Linked DNA regions of Homo sapiens: region 2 is linked to region 1. Evidence: fine-mapped expression QTL. A gene starts in region 1. The other region holds a variant in brackets. All regions are shown on one strand. Distances are from middle to middle. Region 1 holds the start of IL17RE (interleukin 17 receptor E). Region 2 overlaps CIDEC (cell death inducing DFFA like effector c).

Region 1 (9,204 bases):
TATATGCCAGGGAGTGTAGAGGGTGCTAGAAGTATTAAATCAATTAACTCCATGCTAGCATCACAGTGATCTTATGAGGTATCCTCACTGTTATAAAAATGATAAGCTGAGGGCCTCAGGGGTTCAACAGCAGTCCCTGCAAATGCTACCAACTGTATACAATGGCATCCATGACAAAGGGAGGTTGAGGTGGGATGCTGGGGCCCAGGTTGGGAGAATGGGAGACATATCACTCTCTGAGTGGCAGGAACAAAGGGAGGGAGATGGAAGGGTACCAAGACAGATGTGATCATTTTGTTATGTTCTTAGGCGATACAACCTCTTAGGGGAGCTGAAAAGGCTTTTTAAATTTTTAATTAACAATTCTTTTTTCTTACTTGTCACTAACTTGAAGCTCAAGGAAAGGCTTCTTAATGCCTGAATCACACTGAGGATCCTCTCATTGGGGGTAAATACCATACTAATCTCTCTGCTCATTCATGGTCATTCATGGCTGCTCCAGGTCTCTGCCTGCCTTTCCTGTTCTTCCCGGTGACAAGGCCGTCTGCCTTTTCTGTCTAGTCCAAAGAAGTCTTTAAATTTAATTTAATTAATTAATTAATTAATTTATTTATTTATTTTTAGCAGCAGGGTTTCACTATGTTGCCCAAGCTGGTTTTATACTCCTGGCTTCAAGCAATCCTCCTGCTTTGGCCTCCCAAAGTGCTGGGACCACAGGTGTGAGCCACCATGCCACGCCCAAAGAAGTCTTAATGATAGACCCTTCAGCTTGTAAGGAGGTCTTGGACAGTTACCATCCCTCTCTGGGCCTCAGTTTCCTCATTTGTACAATGGGTGGCCTCTTTTGCTAGCACTGTGTGATCGGGCTTTTTACAGGGGGATGACACACCATACCTGGACATCATAGGGACTGCTCAGCTCTTCACACTCCAGTGCCCACTGGTGACAAAGACGCACGCTGACCTCAGGGCCTGAAGATATGGTCACCCGAATAGCCCGGGCCTCAGGCAGCAAATCAAAGGAGAACTCGGGTCCTGGGGAGAGGAAGGACTCAGTGGCCTTGTCTCTTGGCCTTAGCACTGGTACCACCACTCAGCTGAACCCATCTCCTGTTGTACCCAGTGCCCACCTCCATGCCTTTGTGAGTCCAATCTGGGAAGACTTTCCCATGTCTCTGGATCCGAAGGTTGGGTCCTTTTAGAGCGAAGTCCCTTGTGGGAGATGTCTGGGGAGGGGATGGAAATGTGATGGCTCTTCTCAGACAGGTGACGACGAGGCAGCAGCTTCCTCTAAAGGCAGAGAACAAGGTTGGCCTCAGGCCAGAAATCAGGAAACCTGGCTTCTGTTTCTGCCTCTGGAACCTGAGGTACTACAGGCAAGTTGCTCAAACTCTTTTGGCCTCCCTAGCTGTGTAATAGACAGAATACTTCATCTCCACACTTTCTGTCTCACATGGCTGGAGAACCAAATGAGAGGCCAGAAAGCAAAGGTCTGTGGGGCGTCAGGTAGGGCTGGAACTGACAGGGAGAGTACCTGAGCAGGTGCTGGCATCTTGTGTCTCCTATAGAACTTGAATGTGGAAGACTTTTTGGATTTCTGCACCAGGAGGTGGAAGAGGCCCCGTTGAAGACCTGTGCAGGGGAGACGTACTTACTATCTAGCCCTCATTACCCCCTCCCCTGCCTGGAGATGTGGCCCAGTGTTAGTAAGTAATTTTATTTTATTTTATTTATTTATTTATTTTGATATGGAGTTTTGCTCTTTGTTGCCCAGGCTGGAGAGCAATGGCGCGATCTCGGCTCACTGCAGCCTCCACCTCCCAAGTTCAAGTGATTCTCCTGCCTCAGCCTCCCAAGTAGCTGGGATTACAGGCATGTGCCACCATGCCCGGCTAATTTTGTATCTTTAGTGGAGACGGGGTTTCTGCGTGTTGGTCAGGCTGGTCTCGAACTCCCAACCTCAGGTGATCCGCCCGCCTCGGCCTCCCAAAGTGCTGGGATTACAGGCATGAGCCGGCCTGATAGTAAGTCGTTTTAAATCAAGGAGGGTAAGGATGTCAAGCTTCTTTAATCTTGAAAATTATAAAGCAATCAAGAAAAGATTAATTTCTTAAGCAGAGAAAAAGCTATATATACAAAGATATTCATTTTAGCATTCTTTAATTTTTATTTTTTGGAGACGGAGCCTTGCTCTGTCACGCAGGCTGGAGTGCAGCGGCGCGATCTTGGCTCACTGCAATCTCCGCCTCCTGGCTTCAAGCGATTCTCCTGCCTCAGCCCCCAGAGTAGCTGGGACTACAGACGCCTGCCACCACGCCCAGCTAATTTTTTGTACTTTTAGTAGAGACGGGGTTTCACCATGTTAGCCAGGATGGTCTCGATCTCCTGATCTCAAGATCTGCCCACCTCAGCCTCCCAAAGTGCTGGGATTACAGGCGTGAGCCACCACGCCAGTCCCTGCCTCTCTCTCTTTTCTTTCTTTCCTTCATTCCTTCCTTTGTTCCTTCCTTCCTTCGTTCCTTCCTTCCTTCCTTCCTTTCTTGACAGGATTTTGCTCTGTCATGGAGGCTGGAGTGCAGTGGCACAATCACTGCTCACTGCAGTCTTGAACTCTTGGGCTTAAGCAATCCTCTCACCTCAGCCTCCTGAGTAGCTGGGATTACAGGCATGCACCATCACACCTGGCTAATTTTTGTATTTTTAGTAGAGACGGGGTTTCACCATGTTGGCCAGGCTGGTCTCAAACTCCTGACCTCAGGTGATCTGCCCGCCTCAGCCTCCCAAAGTACTGGGATTACCGGCATAAGCCACTGTGCCCAGCCCTGTAGCATTATTTCTAACAACAAACAATTAGAAAAATTAAACACTGCCTATTCTTTTTTTTTTTTTTTTTTTTTTTTTGAGACAGGGTCTCACACTGTCATCCAGGCTGGAGTGCAGTGGCGCTATCTTAACTCACTGCAACCTCCACCTCCTGAATTCAGGTGATCCTCCCACCTCAGCTTCCCAAGTAGCTGGGACTTCAGGTGTGCACTACCACATCCAGCTAATTTTTGTATTTTTTTGTAGAGATGGGGTTTGGCCATGTTGGCCAGGCTGGTCTCAAACTCCAGGACTCAAGCGATCCACCCACCTTGGCCTCCCAGAGTGCTGGGATTACAGGTGTGAACCATCATACCTGGCCCAGAAACTGCCAATTCTTTTTTTGGAGATGGAGTTTTGCTCTTGTCGCCCAGGCTGGAGTGCAATGGCATGATGTCGGCTCACTGCAACCTCCACCTCCTGGGTTCAAGTGATTTTCCTGCCTCAGCCTCCTGAGCAGCTGGGATTACAGGTGCCTGCCACCAGGCCCTGCTAATTTTTTGTATTTTTAGTGGAGACAGGGGTTTCACAATGTTGTCCAGACTGGTCTCGAATTCCTGACCTCAGGTGATCAGGCTGCTTCAGCCTCCCAAAGTGTTGGGATTACAGGCGTGAGCCACCGCGCCTGGCCTAGAAACTGCCAATTCTTAAGCAATGTAAGGGCATTTAGTATGTACCAGGCACTGAGCTGAGCAATTAAAATATAGAGTAAGAAAGAAGATCCTGCTCTACAAATAGATGGTAATAACAATAAATCCATAGCTTTTAATTCCAAGAATCTCAGCTGAAAAAAAACCTTCATAAAATTGTACAATTGTATTTGTGAATATCAGTCATAGCGTGCTATTTTAGGATAATCCAAGTCCCAGTTGAGGTTAAAACAAGACAAATATCTGTTCTAGTAAGTCCCACTTGCTCAGCCTAGGTGGTCCCTCAAAATGTTCTCTTCACTGAGAATGGCCCAAGGGGCTGTTTCTCATACCTGAGCCACCTGACAGCAGATGCTGGCACAAACAGCGGGAACAGTGCCAGACTCGCACACACCAAGGCTTTGTGGAGAAGAGGGCCCACCAGGTGCGGCAAGGGATATAGGCAGAACTTCCTGGGAAAGATGGAAGGGAAAGCAAATGATAGGGTCTAAGAAGGTCCCTCCTACCTCCAACAAGCTGGATTTGAGGCCAAGCTCTGTCACATCCTGGAAGTATGACTTTGGGGGTTACAGGACCTGTCTAAGGATCAGATTCCTCATTCATAAAGCGGGTCTGTTATAAAAATCAAAATTGTAGTGTATGGGAAAATGTCTTGTGAAGTAGAACATACCATAAAATAGGAAGGATTATTGTTGTATTACTGATAGAAGTGAGGGATCAGTTAAGGGGAGGAGCCAACATATATGGAGAACCTGGAGATTTACTCATGTTTCTCATCTAATCCTCTCTACAGATCAGAAGCAACACTGCCTTTAGTGTACAATCATTTCTACTATGCTACTACCCCTCAGAAACTGAGGGTCAGTTGGAGGGGTTAGGTGCACAGTCTGAGGCCACACGGGAGTCTGGCAGAACTGCAATGTGAACCCAGGCTTGTCATGATTCCAAATTTTTCCTTGATATTGTGCTACTTCCCGGGTTGGGAACTGAAAATTAGAATGGAGGGCTTGCTAGGCATCTGCAAAAATAGTGGGCGTGGGGAGGAGCAATGGGGCAGGAAATGCGACTCACCAGTGAAACTGTCATCCTGAGGCACAGGGCCCAGTAGGGAAAAGAAAGGAAAGAGCTATTATTAGGAGAGACTCCCATAAGGCACATTCCTGGGGTCTTTGCTTCAAATCAGCAAATTCTGAGCCCCATAGCTAATAGCCCATACCTTCTGGCTCTTATCTTCCCAGCTCCACCCTGTCCAGGCCCTCAGCACAAAGGACCTTGGCTACCCCTTTGAGACTAGGTAGAGGACACATCAAAGCTGCCACCAGAGCACAGGGACTGCGGAGGTAGCACAGGGCAGGCAGGGGAGTGGGGAGCTTTATGGCTGTGCCAGGCAGGTGTCCCTACCTGGCAGCAGCACCTTACCGTGTGGGAGGCCAGAGGACAGCGGGTGTTCCAGTGGGGCAGGTGGCGAAAGCCAATCCCAGCAGAGTCAGAGAGGTCGATGACTATGAGGAGGAGAGGCAGGAGCAGGGCTGCCAGTCTGGAGCTCCCCATGGGCTTCTGTGCAATTAGGGCTCCCGGAACATGGCTGCATGGCCTGAAGGTGGGTGGCAGGGCCTTGCTGTGCAGCAGCGAACACAGTACCAGCAGGAGCCCTCGCCCCAGCCTGCCCTGGCCCCGCCCTGCCCGAAAGCTCCTCCTTGATCCCAACCAGCCAGCCAGGCCACATTCCTTCCCCTCCAAGTGGAGGGACTGAGGAAAGCTTGTGCCCCCAAAAACCCTACTGCCCCCCACCTGAAAGACAAGGGGCTCCTGCTGTGGGTGAGAAGTAACAGGAAAGGGGCTAGCATCAGGTTGGGGGACGCACCCATTTCTTAGCCCCTCCTACTCCTGAAACACACTGCAGATCTGATCCACCCATCAGCACACTCTGGAACTTGTGTCTCCCATAGACATGCGCTTCACCCCCTCACTTAGAGAATTAGCCGAGCTCTTAAGCACTACTCAGCACTGGGTGCTGGAGATACAGAGGTGACTGAGGCACCATTTAGAGTGGGGAAGAAAAAAAGCACTCTAGGATGCACATGAAGCCCATATGTACCCTGGCTTCCCAACTGGTTAACTCTCAGGACTATAGCCGAGTTCTCTCTACCCATGAGCCAGGTCCAGCTCTTCTAGGCAAAGGGCTCCATACCAAAGGGGCCTCTAGCTTCAAGGACCCACTAGTCAGTACGCCCTGCTCAGGAAGCCCCAGAGCTCACAGCTGAGCCCTGGAGCAGAGGGAGCGGGCCCCACACACTGACCTGGTTTCCTGTGGTTTCCGGTGCTGGAGAAAGGCTGACGAGGCTCCATCTTTGTGGGAACCCTCCCCATCATCCCACAGCTTCCTCCCCTTCATGGAGCATTTGAGCAGCTTCAGCCCTCACCTTGGTAACACACACACTGGAAAGAAAGTTTGGGGCACACCTACCAGGTCAAGGCATCTTTTTTTTTTTTTTTTTTTTTTTTTTTGAGACTGAGTCTTGCTCTATTACCCAGGCTGGAGTGCCGTGGCACAATCTCTGCTCACTGCAACCTCCACCTGCTGGGTTCAACCGATTCTCTTGCCTCAGCCTCCTGAGTAGCTGGGAGTACAGGCACCTGCCCCATGCCTGGCTAATTTTTGTATTTTAGTAGAGACAGGGTTTCACCATATTGGCCAGGCTGGTCTCGAACTCCTGACTATGTGATCCACCTACCTTGGCCTCCCAAAGTGCTGGGATTACAAGCGTGAGCCACGGCGCCCAGCCAAGGCATCTTGAGATTGTTATTGTCCCCCTGCAATTCAATCTAGACCACCTTTCAGTGGCCTAACCACAGCCTGCTTTTGGCCAATTCTATTCCTGTCTTTAGGTTCATTGTCTGAAGGCTGCATCCTACCCATTATCCTAAAAGTACCCTCTAGCTTTTTGAGTTCATGAAAAGATAAAAACTCTTATTCTTTATGTTTCTCCAAGCCTAGCAGTAGATATTATGAAGTATGTGCTGTGTAATTGAATAAATGTCATGATACATTTCATCTATGTAGTTTATCTGTTTCACACTTCACAAAACACTTTTATATTTAATCCTCCTAACCCTACCTGTGAGACAGGTAAGTGTTAATTATTGTTTTCATTTCATAGAGAGATAAGGAAGCAGAGGGATAATGATTTGGACAAGGTCAAAGTCTATAGTTCAGGGAGCTCCCCTTTTGCTAGGCCCTCGCAACTCAACTCTCTCTTTTTTTTTTTTTTTTTTGAGACAGAGTCTCACTGTGTCACCCAAGCTGGAGTGCAAATGGTGCAATCTCAGGTCACTGCAATCTCCACCTCCCAGGTTCAAACGATTCTCCCGCCTCAGCCTCCCGAGTAGCTGGGATTACAGGTGCACGCCACCACACCAGACTAATTTTTGTATTTTTAGTAGAGACGGGTTTCACCATGTTGGCCAGGCTGGTCCTGGACTCCTGACCTAAGGTGATCTGAGCCCAGCTTGGCCTCCCAAAGTGCTGGGATTACAGGCATGAACCACAGCACCTGGCTTTTTTTTTTTTTTTTTTTTTTTGAGATAGTCTTGCTCTGTTGCCCAGGCTGGAGTGCAGTGGTGTGTTCTTGGCTCACTGCAACCTCCGCCTCCTAGGTTCAAGTGATTCTTGTGCCTTAGCCTCCTGAGTAGCTGGGATTACAGCTGTGCACCACTATGCCTGGCTAATTTTTGTATTTTTAGTAGAGACAGGGTTTTGCCACATTGGCCAGGCTGGTCTTGAACTCTTGGCCTCAAGTGATCCACCTGCTTCAACCTTCCAAAGTGCTAGGATTATGGGCATGAGCCACTGTGCCCGGTACCAATTCTCTATCATCCTATGGTCTTCCCTCACACAGCCTCATCTTCCTCTGCTCTTGGAACCCAAAAGGGGCTGCCTGACACAGACCCTAACACAGTATGCCTTTTGGCCTTGAAGTCCATCTCTGCAAACAAAACAGTAAGATCTGAAAGGAGGAAAGGGTGGTCTGGCCATACTAAGAATAGGTTAGAGAGCCTTCCCCCAAATTCTACCTAACTCACAGTGGTTTAGAGCTATATAAATATGAGGTTTCTTTCTTTTCTTTTTTTTTTTTTGAGACAGAGTCTCACTCTATCACCCAAGCTGGAGGACAATGGCGCAATCACCACTTACTGCAGCCTCAACCTCCTGGACTCAAGTGAATCCTCCCTTCACAGGCACACACCATTTTGCCTGGCTACATATAGGGTCTGGCTATGGTGCTCAAGCTGGTCTCAAACTCCTGGCCTCTAGCAGTTATCCTGCCTCAGCTTCCCAAGGTGCTAGGATTACAGGTGTGAGCCACTGTGTCTGGCCAATAATGAGTTTTCTTTTTTTTTTTTTGAGACGGAGTCTTGCTCTGTTGCCCAGGCTGGAGTGCAGTGGTGCGATCTCGGCTCACTGCAAGCTCCGCCTCCCAGGTTCACGCCATTCTCTTGCCTCAGCCTCCCGAGCAGCTGGGACTACAGGCACCCGCCACCTCACCCGGCTAATTTTTTGCGTTTTTAGTAGAGAGGGGGTTTCACCGTGTTAGCCAGGATGGTCTCAATCTGCTGACCTTGTGATCCGCCCACCTCGGCCTCCCAAAGTGCTGGGATTACAGGCGTGAGCCACTGCGCCCGGCCCAAATAATGAGTTTTCTAATGCTGGAGGCATGAAGTGAGAAACTTGGTTCTATTCCAAAACAATCCTTCTTCTTTACCCTTATCTTCTGATCTCTCACAGAGAAAATATTGGTTAATTGCTTCTGGTTAAGGTATGGGAGGAGAAGCAGAAAAGAAATGGAGATAAGAAGGAAGAGAGGAAGGGAAAAAAAGGAAGGAAGGAAAGAAGGGAGGGAGGGAAGAAAGGAGGGAGGGAGAGAAGGCAGCAGGGAGGGAAGGAGGAAGGGAGGAAAGAAGGGAGGGAGGGAGGAAGGGACGGAGGAAGAGAGGAAGGGAGGGAAGGAGGATGGGAGGAGAGAAGAGAGGGAAAGAGGGAAGAAAGGGAAGAAAAACAGCATTCCAGGACCCGCTGGAAAAGTAAAAGGAATAAAGGTGAGGAAGAAAGGGGGAAAAAGAAAAGGACGTGTGCATTTTATTTATTGTCTTGCTGGTTTACTTATTTATTGTAGAGACTGTTCCAAAAAGTATTTAAGGTAAGAAGCACAGGGGTGAATTCTGGCACAACCTAAGGAAGGGGAGGGATGGGATCAACATTTGCTGAAATCCTACTATCAGGCTCTGAGTCATGCATTTTGCCCAGTTTATTTTATTTGTACTACAACCCTTGAGTTCACAGTCTTATTACCCCATTTTACAGACTGCAAAACACTCAGGAAGATTAGGTAAAGTCCAAGCACACACACCTAAGAGCTGAAGTCAGCCCCTCACTTGCTGATCTCTCTCCTACGCTTACGCTCTGAGTTCCTCCCCACCCTTGCCCTCACCCCACATTGCCCCCTCCTATTTGGTGCCTGGCCAGCTCAGGCAGCTTGCGTCACAGTAAAGTAAAGCCAGAATGAGTTTTAGGTCTGAGTGAGATTGGAAAAGCCATTCCTCTGACCCTCCCCACCTGCTCCCGTCTCTCCAGGCATCCTACCTGCAAGAGGACACTGTGAGGGGCAAAAAATGTCCCTTCCAGAGCTGGCAGG
Region 2 (9,204 bases), 39 kb after region 1:
AAAATATGAAAACTAGCTGGACATCGTGGTGCATGCCTGTAATCCCAACTACTCAGGAGGCTGAAGCAGGAGAATCGCTTGAAGCTAGGAGGCAGAGGTTGCAGTGAGCCAAGATTCTGCCACTGCACTCCAGCCTGGGCAAAAGAGCAAGACTGTCTCGGAAAAAAAAACAAAAAAAAGCACGTGTCAAAGACTTAATTGAATTCATTAATTAATGAGAGAACTAGCAAGAAGTTACAATCAGCTCAAAGGAGATTTCAAAATCCCACATATATACAGGTCCAGGAAGAATGATGAGATAGGTTGAGTGCAGCAGCTCTCACCTGGGATCCCAGCACTTTGGGAGGTCAAGGCAGGAGGATCTGTTGAGCCCATGAGTTTGAGACCAGCCTCGGCAACACAGTGAGACCCTGTCTTTATCACACGCCCGTGTGTGCGCACACACACACACACACAAAATGCTGGCAGTGGTAGTATGTACCTATAATCCCAGCTAGGTGGGAGGATTGCTTGAGCCCAGGAGTTTGAGGCTGCAGTGAGATATGACCATACTACTGTGTACTCCAGCCTGGGCAACAGCATGAGACCTTGTCTCTAAAACGAAGAAAAAGAGAGATAAATGTATACATACAAAATTGGGCTTTTTCCCCTGTGGGAATGGGAGGGATGAAATAATCTTCCCTCCATATGACAGAATTAATTTGCAAGTCTTATGGACCAGAGTCATTTGTACTATATAATGAACTTTTCTTAAAACTTATTTTTGAAAGTCTAACCAAATGTCTCAAGAAGCATGAGAATATGTGAGGTTAGAACCCGCTCCCGCTTCCCCATTTCCCCTACTTTCCAAACATCCAACCCCATGTTAATTGCTTTATGCTATTTCAGCCTTATGACCCTGGGTGGCAGGTGCAATCCCATTTTACCCATGAGGAAGCTGAAGCTCAAAGCTAGAGCAGTTTGCTGAAGTTCACCCAGCTAATAAGACTGGATTAGGACTTAGGCCTGCCTGATTCAGGTTCTGTTCTCAGTACATGCTCATGCCAGGCATGGATGTCTTCATGTCCAGCACTCTGAACATGAGCTAGACTGCAGGTGGCTTGGACAGGCCTCAGAGTCTAGAACAGAGTGTCTCAAGGTGCAGAACCATGTTATGGAGATTAATCTGGTTGGTCCAAAGTAGTAGTAGAAAAATAAAAGCCTTATGAAATGAGCTGGGGTTTTGCATGAGAAAGTAGGGAGGTTCCGGGCATCTCAGTTAAGGTGGAATTGCAGGTCCTCGCACTAATCTTGATCCCATCTGCAGCATCTGTTCCTATTTGCACATCGCTCTAGAATTGATGAAATGCTTTTAGTGCTACCACCTCAGTGGTATTCAAATGTTATTAATGAAGAAAACAAACATAATGAAACCAATCCCTTCCAGGCCAGCATGGGAATAAGGGGGTGCAGGGAGGGGGTACACTCTTGTTTTTATTTATTATGTATTTATTTATTTTTGAGACAGAGACTCACTCTGTCACCCAGGCTGGAGTGCAGTGGCACAATCTCAGCTCACTACAACCTCTGTCTCCCAGGTTCAAGTGATTTTCGTGCCTCAGCTTCCCGAGTAGCTGAGATTACAGGTGTCTGCCACCACGCCCGGCTAATTTTTTGTATTTTTTAGTAGAGACGGGGTTTCGCCATGTTGGCCAGGCTGGTCTCAAACTCCTGACCTCAAATGATCCACCCACCTCGGCCACCTAAAGTTATAGGATTACAGGCATGAGCCACCAAGCCCAGCCTTGTGTTTTTTGTTTGATTGTTTTTTGAGACTGAATCTTGCTCTGTCACCCAGGCTGGAGTGCAGTGGTGCCACCTCGGCTCACTGTGACCTCCGCCTCCTGGGTTCAAGCGATTCTCCTGCCTCAGGCTCTGGAGTAACTGGGATTACAGTCACCCACCACTATGCCTGCCTAGTTTTTGTATTTTTAGTAGAGACAGAGATTCGCCATGTTGGCCATGCTAGTCTCAAACTCCTGACCTCAGGTTACCCGCCCTCCATGGCCTCCCAAAGTGCTAGGATTACAGGCGTGAACGCCATGCCCGACCTACTTCGTGGTTTTGACTTGCGTGCCCTCTCATTCCACCCAGGGAAGCTTTCCGCTGGGCCCTCTTCAGCATGCAGGCCACAGGCCACGTACTGCTTGGCACCTCCTGTTACCTGCAGCAGCTCCTCGATGCTACGGAGGAAGGGCAGCCCCCCAAGGGCAAGGCCTCATCCCTTATCCCGACCTGTCTGAAGATACTGCAGTGAAAGCCCAAGTCCTTGGAAGCTTTCCCCAGTGAAGGACTGACTGGGGGCCTCACGCTTAACTGGTAGTGCCCACAAGCCTGGCAGCTGTAGAGCCGCGAACCTCCCCACACCTCCCTCACCGCGCAGGACCCTGAGTGAGGAGGAGGAGCTGGAAACCTGGGGTGGGTTGGCCAAAGGAGAACCTCAAGCTCCTGGCCTGATCCAGCTCCTTCCTGCCCAAGGCAGCTTAGCCCATCCAGACTGGTCCTGAAGTCTGTCCCTCCATTGGCATGAAGTCTGCCCCTTAGCAATCTGGCCTCGCAGGCTGTACTTTCATGGTGCTCTCTACCTTCTGGCCCCCATCCCGGAACATTCCTGAGTGAATTCGCAAGCGCACTAGCATGTGATATTAGGGAGTTTGCAATAAATTATTGAGGCTGATGTATCTTCTTTGCCTGTGTTCTTTGGGGTGGGGTTTTATCTGGAAGGTTGGAGGGGGCTAAAGGAAGAGACGAATCTATTGTCAAAGTATTCTCTTTAATGTAGGATTACAGCTAATGGCACTTTTTCTACCAAAGAAGAAAAAAAAAAACAGCTGGGCACAGTGACACGTGCCTGCAGTCCCAGATACTCAGCAAGCTGGGGTGGAAGCATCCCTTGAGACCAGGAGTTCAAGGCCAGGCTGGAGCACAATAGCAAGACCCCAGGCTCCTTAAAAAACAAAATTGCAGTTGATTTTGAAACTAAAGTCAGCTGAATTTGAGGCTTGAGCTGACCATGTAATTGATACCATAAGTAACAATTTCCTAATTAAATTCACCTATCAGAGGAGCTTCAATTGAGCAGGTGGGATTAAGTCACTCTTCTAATTTCTCAGTGTCCCATTTTATAATAACCGTTTAAGTGGTTAGGTGAAAAAGTACTACTCAAGCTGTAAGGCATTTCTCCATCAATGCCCATCCTAACTTGCCAGACAGCTTATCTTTCATGTTCAGGACTTTCAACCTCGGGATTTCAAAGTGGGCTCATAGGTAGCCCCAAAGAGTAGGAGCTTCTCATCAGTGTGAGCTGGCATTTTCCAGTATTGGACAACTCAAGACAAGCATGAAAGGCTGAACTTAGGCTGGGCATGGTGGCTCACGCCGTAATCCCAGCACTTTGGGAGGCCGAGCCAGGCAGATTACCTGAGGTCAGGAGTTCAAGACCAGCCTGACCAACATGGTGAAACCCGGTTTCTATTAAAAACAAAAAAATTAGCTGGCCAGCATGGCAGGCGCCTGTACTCCCAGCTGTTTGGGAGGCTGAGGCAGTAGAATCGCTTGAACCTGGGAGGCAGAGGTTGTGGTAAGCCAAGATCGTGCCACTGCACTACAGCCTGGGTGACAGAGCGAGACTCCATCTCAAAAAAAAAAAAAAAAGGCTGAACTTGTAGAACTTGTAGGTGACTGTTTTATTTAGTCTGTGACTGAAAGATTTAAAAACTTGGCCAGGTGCAGTGGCTCATGCCGGATATCCCGGCACTTTGGGAGGCTGAGGCAGGAGTATCGCTTGAGGCCAGGAGTTCAAGAGCAGCCTGGGCAACATAGCCAGACCCTGTCTCTACACTAGATAATAAAAAAAAATTAGCAGAGCATGGTGGCTGTAGTCCCAGCTACTCAGGAGCCTGAGGCAGGAGGTTCACTGGAGCCCAGTAGGTCGCGGCTGCAGTGAGCTATGATTGTGCCACTGCACTCCAGCCTGGGCAACAGAGTGAGAGCCTGTCTCTGGGAAAAAAAAAAAAGAGGATTCAAAAACTCTATCACAGCCAGCCGCAGTGGCTCACGCCTGTAATCCCAGCGCTTTGGGAGGCCAAGGCGGGTGGATCACAAGGTCAGGCATTTGAGAGCAGCCTGGCCAACATGGCCAAATCCCGTCTCTACTAAAAGTACAAAATATTGGCCGGGCATGGTGGTGGGCACCTGTAATCTCAGCTACTCGGGGGGCTGAGGCAGGAGAATTGCTTGAACCTGGGAGGTGCAGGTTGCAGTGAGCCGAGATTGTGCCATTGCACTCTAGCCTGGACGACAGAGTGAGACTCCGTCTCAAAAAAGAAACAAACAAACAAAAAACGAAAAACAAAACAAAACCTATTGTTTCACTACTCTTACTATAAAGCCTATTTGGATGTAGTAAATACTAAGGCAAAGGCCTATATTACCAAAGATGGTCTGGGAGCTATTTATGGCAGCGGACCCAAACCCTGCAGCCTATGGGCAAAGCGGCTGAAGCTCGCTGAAGAGGGCCTGCTATTC[C/T]GGGCTCTCCTGCTCTTTTGCAGTTATGGCTGGAGGCTGGCCCGGTGCCAGGCTGGCTCCATGGGGTGGGCTGTCTGGCAGGGAGGCCTGATGTTTGTATTAGCACAGAAGCTATCCCAGTCCACCCTTGATGAAGCTGTGGCGGGGCCTACCTGCTCCTTCCGTAAAGTGCTCAGTAACAGAGTTGGAGTGGGGGTGGGAGGCTCGGTATTTGTCCCAAGCTTCCCTCCTCCTGAGATCCGGAGTTTCACAAGTGAATCTTGAGCAACTGCCCATGGTCTCTTGGCATTGAGCCCAGGGAAAACAAGGTTCTTTCTTTTCTTCCAGGAGCTCGAGGCTAATGGAGTCAAAGCAGCTGTGGTCAGTGAACAGAAAAGGCAGCCTCTGATGAGGCTTGGGGGCTGGGGAGGGAAGATTCCAAACAGCAAAGGAGTTTGAGCCTCTGTAGGGCCTGGCGGTCCTAGTGGGGGAACGGCCTTTCCTGGGGCCCCCCGCACAGCCAGGAGCAGCTGTCGTCAAGGTGGACTGTGTCCCAGCCCCTCCAGCTCAGCCTTTTCATCTGTTCAAGCTGGTGCTCGGGAGTGCACAGGATGCCTTTCAGAAGAATTCTAAATCCCGGGGGCCTGTGATGCCACAGTCACATGTCTGAGCCCAAAACAAGAGAACCACTTGTGTTTTTGCCACTCTTCTTACCAGCGATGCCCATATTTGTGCATATAATTTTTTTTTTTTTGAGACGCAGTCTCACTCTGTCGCCTGGGCTGGAGTGCAGTAGTGTGATCTCGGCTCACTGCAAGCTCCGCCTCCCGGGTTCATGCCATTCTCCTGCCTCAGCCTCCCAAGTAGCTGGGACTACAGGCACCCGCCACCACGCCCAGCTAATTTTTTGTATTTTTAGTAGAGACGGGGTTTCACCGTGTTAGCCAGGATGGTGTCGATCTCCTGACCTCGTGATCCGCCGGCCTCGGCCTCCCAAAGTGCTGGGATTACAGGCGCAAGCCACCGCGCCCGACCCATATATGTATTTTTTGTGGGGTGGGGGAAATACTGATTCTGAGATGTGTGCTGCCTGGAATCCCATGGCCACCGTGACCAGGGTTGTAGGGGGCCCAGGGGCCCAGGGTCTTTGATGTCAGCCGCATCTCCTGGCCAGCATTGACCCAGGGGTCCCACGTCAGCTGGTTTAGTGGGGGCCGCTCCCTGGGGTCGAGGCTGAGGAATTGTTTTACTAGTGTTTCCAGTGGAAACGAAGAAATAGGTGGAGAGTCATACTGTCACATAGCCTGAGGCGGGAAGGGACCACGGGTGGGGCTGGATGTTCTTTCAGCCTCCCTGGCAGAGATCACTGACAGAGTGGTCAGCTTGGCCAAGCTTCTGCGGTGGATGGCTCTGATGTAGGGGAGGGAGGCAATCCCCAGAGCAGGAATGGGTTCCCAGGGGCCCCTATCCTTGCAGGGGAGGCGCTGGCCATCCTCCCCTCAGAGCCTTCTTCACTGCAGCCCGTAGGGGGGCGAGTGACCTGGAGGATCCGTGCCCCAGGGGCAAACCTCTGGGCTCTGGCTTCAGCCCCACCCGGGAAAACATTCACAGCTCCTCCGGAGAAGCGCCCTGCTGCAGGAAGACTCTAGGGCAGGGCCCAGCTGCGAGGCTACTGGCCTGTTGGTGACAGTACCCCAGGCTTCAAACTCTCTGGGCCTGTTGGCAATTCCCTTCCCTGGGTACAACAGATTCCCACCCGGCCCGCCCTTCTGCTCGCCCCACGGGGAAGTGGCCCAGGAGTGGAGGCGTGGACAGGCATCCCGATGGCTCAGAGTCGGGGTCAGCCTGGACAGCACGGCCTCTGGGGGTCAGACGGGGAGCGAGGGGAAGGTGCCAGGCTCCAGGACAGCCCTTGACAGGCGGTCTGACGGCCTCGGGTCTCCTCTTTTCTGGCCTCGGGGACGGGGCCAGGCGGCGGTGAGCCGCGGGGGGCGGGGCTTTAATGGCCATCGGCCCCACCCAGCCTGCGCTGGGAAGCGGAGACAGGGACGCCCCTGCTCCAGCAGAGCCTGACCCCTGCGGGCTGCCGGGGCCGCCTCCCTCTAGGCGCTGCTGCGCCCACACGGACAGGCGCCCTCTGCGGGTCCCGCGGCTCCCGGCCCCATTCAGCGCCTCCAGATGCCTCACCCGAGCCCTCTCCGCTGGGTCCCCGGGGCCTCAAAGCGCCGACCAAGCCGGGGAGTCACTCCCCTGAGCCACCCGATCTTCCCATGGATCCTTTGGATCCCTGGGTTTTGGAGTTTGTCCTTCCTAAGTGCCGCCTGCCTGGACGCGACTGCCCCAGGACCACAGCTGACCCAGTGCGGCTGCGTCCCCTGCGGGCCACCATCAAGGGCACAGGCATCAGGTCCCCCAAGACTCAGTGACCCGCCCTGCCCGGGGCTGACCCTCAGGGTGGGGAAAGGCCACTAACTCTGGTCCTCTCCCCTTCCTCAAGGCTCCTTCCTCACCTGGGGTGAAGGGCTGCCAGTCCCAGCACCTCAGGGGCCTTCCTGTTTCATTTATACCAACAAATAATCATTCAGTGTGCTGGGACAGAGAAGACAGACACGCTGGCCCCCGGGTGGGCGAGAGAGACTGGTCTGTAAGTGCAGAAAACTCCCAATAGGGACGGGCTAGGAAGGAAACACCAGGAAAAGTGAGGGTGGAAGATGGGGGTGACCCTACTGCAGATGAGATGCTCAGGGAGGGCTTCTCTAGGAGAAGGTGCCATTAACTAGATTGACAAAACGGAAGGGCAGGGCCTGTGAAAGTCTTCTAAGAGAGGGACTGGCAGTGCCCAGGGGGCTGTCGTAGGGATGGAAATAGGACAGCAAGATGGGTGTGGGGAGTGTGAGCCTGGCAGACAGGACCCAGGCTCTATGTGATGGGTGCAGGGGGGGGACCCACGGAGGCCCTGAGAAAGCCCTGGGCCTCAGAAGACAGGGAAACAAGAGGACCCACTTAGAGGCCCTCACAACCTTTGCACAGACAGTGTAAAACGGCTCAGGCCAGAATGTGGTTTAGGTTTCAGAAGGGTGCTGTGTCCCCCACCCTCTTCTTGAGGCTAAAGGGCTCCAACTCCTTAGGCGATTACCACATGGTTCTGGGGCCCCACAGACAGCCTTCTGATGGTTTTTGTCTGTGGCCAGGCAGGGGGCAGGGGGTGACTGCCCCTTCCTTGGCCAAGGGGACAGATAAAGGGAGCCTCTGGGGGCAGGATTGCTGGACTAGGAATCAGACTTGGAGCGTAATCCAAATGCCCCACTGGCCCTGCCTCTTCTCTGGAGCTCAACTTCTTCAAGAAAACTGGGGACAAGAGATGGCAAGACCAGCTCTCAGGACCCTTGCCCCTCCACCCTGTGACACTTTTAGACTGTTCTCAGGGGCCACCTTTTTCAGGAAGAATTCTCGGGTTACAGGAAAGTAAAGGGAGGAGCTGTGTTTTGAGTGGCACTTCGCTCAGGCTCTAGGCTAGGTGTTGGTTTGGTGGGGCTTGCTTTTCCACCTGCCCCAGCCCGCTTCACAAAACCTGAGTCCTGGCTAGGGCCAAGAGTGAGATTCCTGTTTCTAGATTTTCATCATTCTGTGTTGCACAAAACAAGGTCTGGTGGGGGGTGGGGGGTGGGTAAGGAGACAGATATTAGCAAGTATATAATAAAGAAAATTGGCAGGGCATGGTGGCTCATGCCTGTAATCCCAGCACTTTGGGAGGCAGAGGCGGGCAGATCACCCGGTTCACCATGGCCAACATAGTGAAACCCTTTCTCTACCAAAAATACAAAAATTAGCCAGGTGTGGTGGTGCTTGCCTGTAGTCCCAGCTACTTAGGAGGCTGAGGCAAGAGAATGGCTTGAGCCTGGGAGCTGGAGGTTGCAGTGAGCTGATAATGCACGACTGCACTCCAACCTGGGGGACTGAATGAGACTCCATCTCAAAAAAAAAAAAAAAAAGAAAAAAAGAAAGGCCGGGCACAATGGCTCACGCTTGTAATCCCAGCACTTTGGGAGGCCGAGGCGGGCGGATCATGAGGTCAGGAGATCGAGACCATCTTGGCTAACACGGTGAAACCCCGTCTCTACTAAAAAAAAAAAAAAAGATAATTTAGCCAGAGAAAACCTAGAAGAGGAATCAGGATGGGAGGATTAGGAATGGCAGAGGAAGGTGGGGATGGGGGTGGGACAAATAGAAAGGAGGTGGGGGAGGGGGCCAGGGAAATAAAATCCAAGAGATCAGCGGGGATCAGAAGCCACAGCCTTAGTGGGGACCTCAGGAGAGCAGCAACCTGCATCTATCTTGGAAAGGTGGAGAGAGAACTGCAGTGACCTCATTGGGGAGGAAGGGGGAGGTGGCAGGGCAGAGGAAGCAGGGGACAAACAGGAGGAAGAGATGGTGCCCTGGGTCAGGTGGCCGCCACTGCTACCATCAATGGAAGTGGAAAACTCTTTGCCTTCTCCTTACACCTGTCACCATGACACGACACCCCCATGCTTTCTGCCCACCGCCCCCACCTTCTTTAGTAAAGGTGCTGGCAACTAAGGAGCAGAGTCTGATTTGAAGTTGCCGAGGAAACCATCATGGGCAGCTGTGAAACCATCAGGCTTGCCCAGCAGGGAGCTC

What was found. PIP is the estimated chance that this variant, and not a neighbour inherited with it, causes the effect.
Region 2: its variant is fine-mapped to the expression of IL17RE in tibial artery (GTEx, PIP above 0.99). The same link has a PIP of 0.9 or more in aorta.

What each region holds. Positions count from the first base shown.
Region 1 is chr3:9,898,791-9,907,994 of GRCh38, reverse strand. It overlaps IL17RE (interleukin 17 receptor E), which reads right to left and starts at 5,147. Exons shown (of 16, transcript NM_153480.2): 1 at 4,931-5,147; 2 at 4,583-4,598; 3 at 3,844-3,963; 4 at 1,534-1,631; 5 at 1,130-1,289; 6 at 895-1,034. The coding sequence starts at 5,062. RefSeq lists an enhancer at 4,274-4,943.
Region 2 is chr3:9,860,226-9,869,429 of GRCh38, reverse strand. It overlaps CIDEC (cell death inducing DFFA like effector c), which reads left to right. Exons shown (of 7, transcript NM_001321142.2): 7 at 2,134-2,716. The coding sequence ends at 2,296. Among named protein-coding and RNA genes, the nearest start is that of CIDEC, 15 kb to the left of the region's middle. RefSeq lists silencers at 5,051-5,345, 6,451-6,745. The variant C/T (reference allele first, on the strand shown) is at 4,567.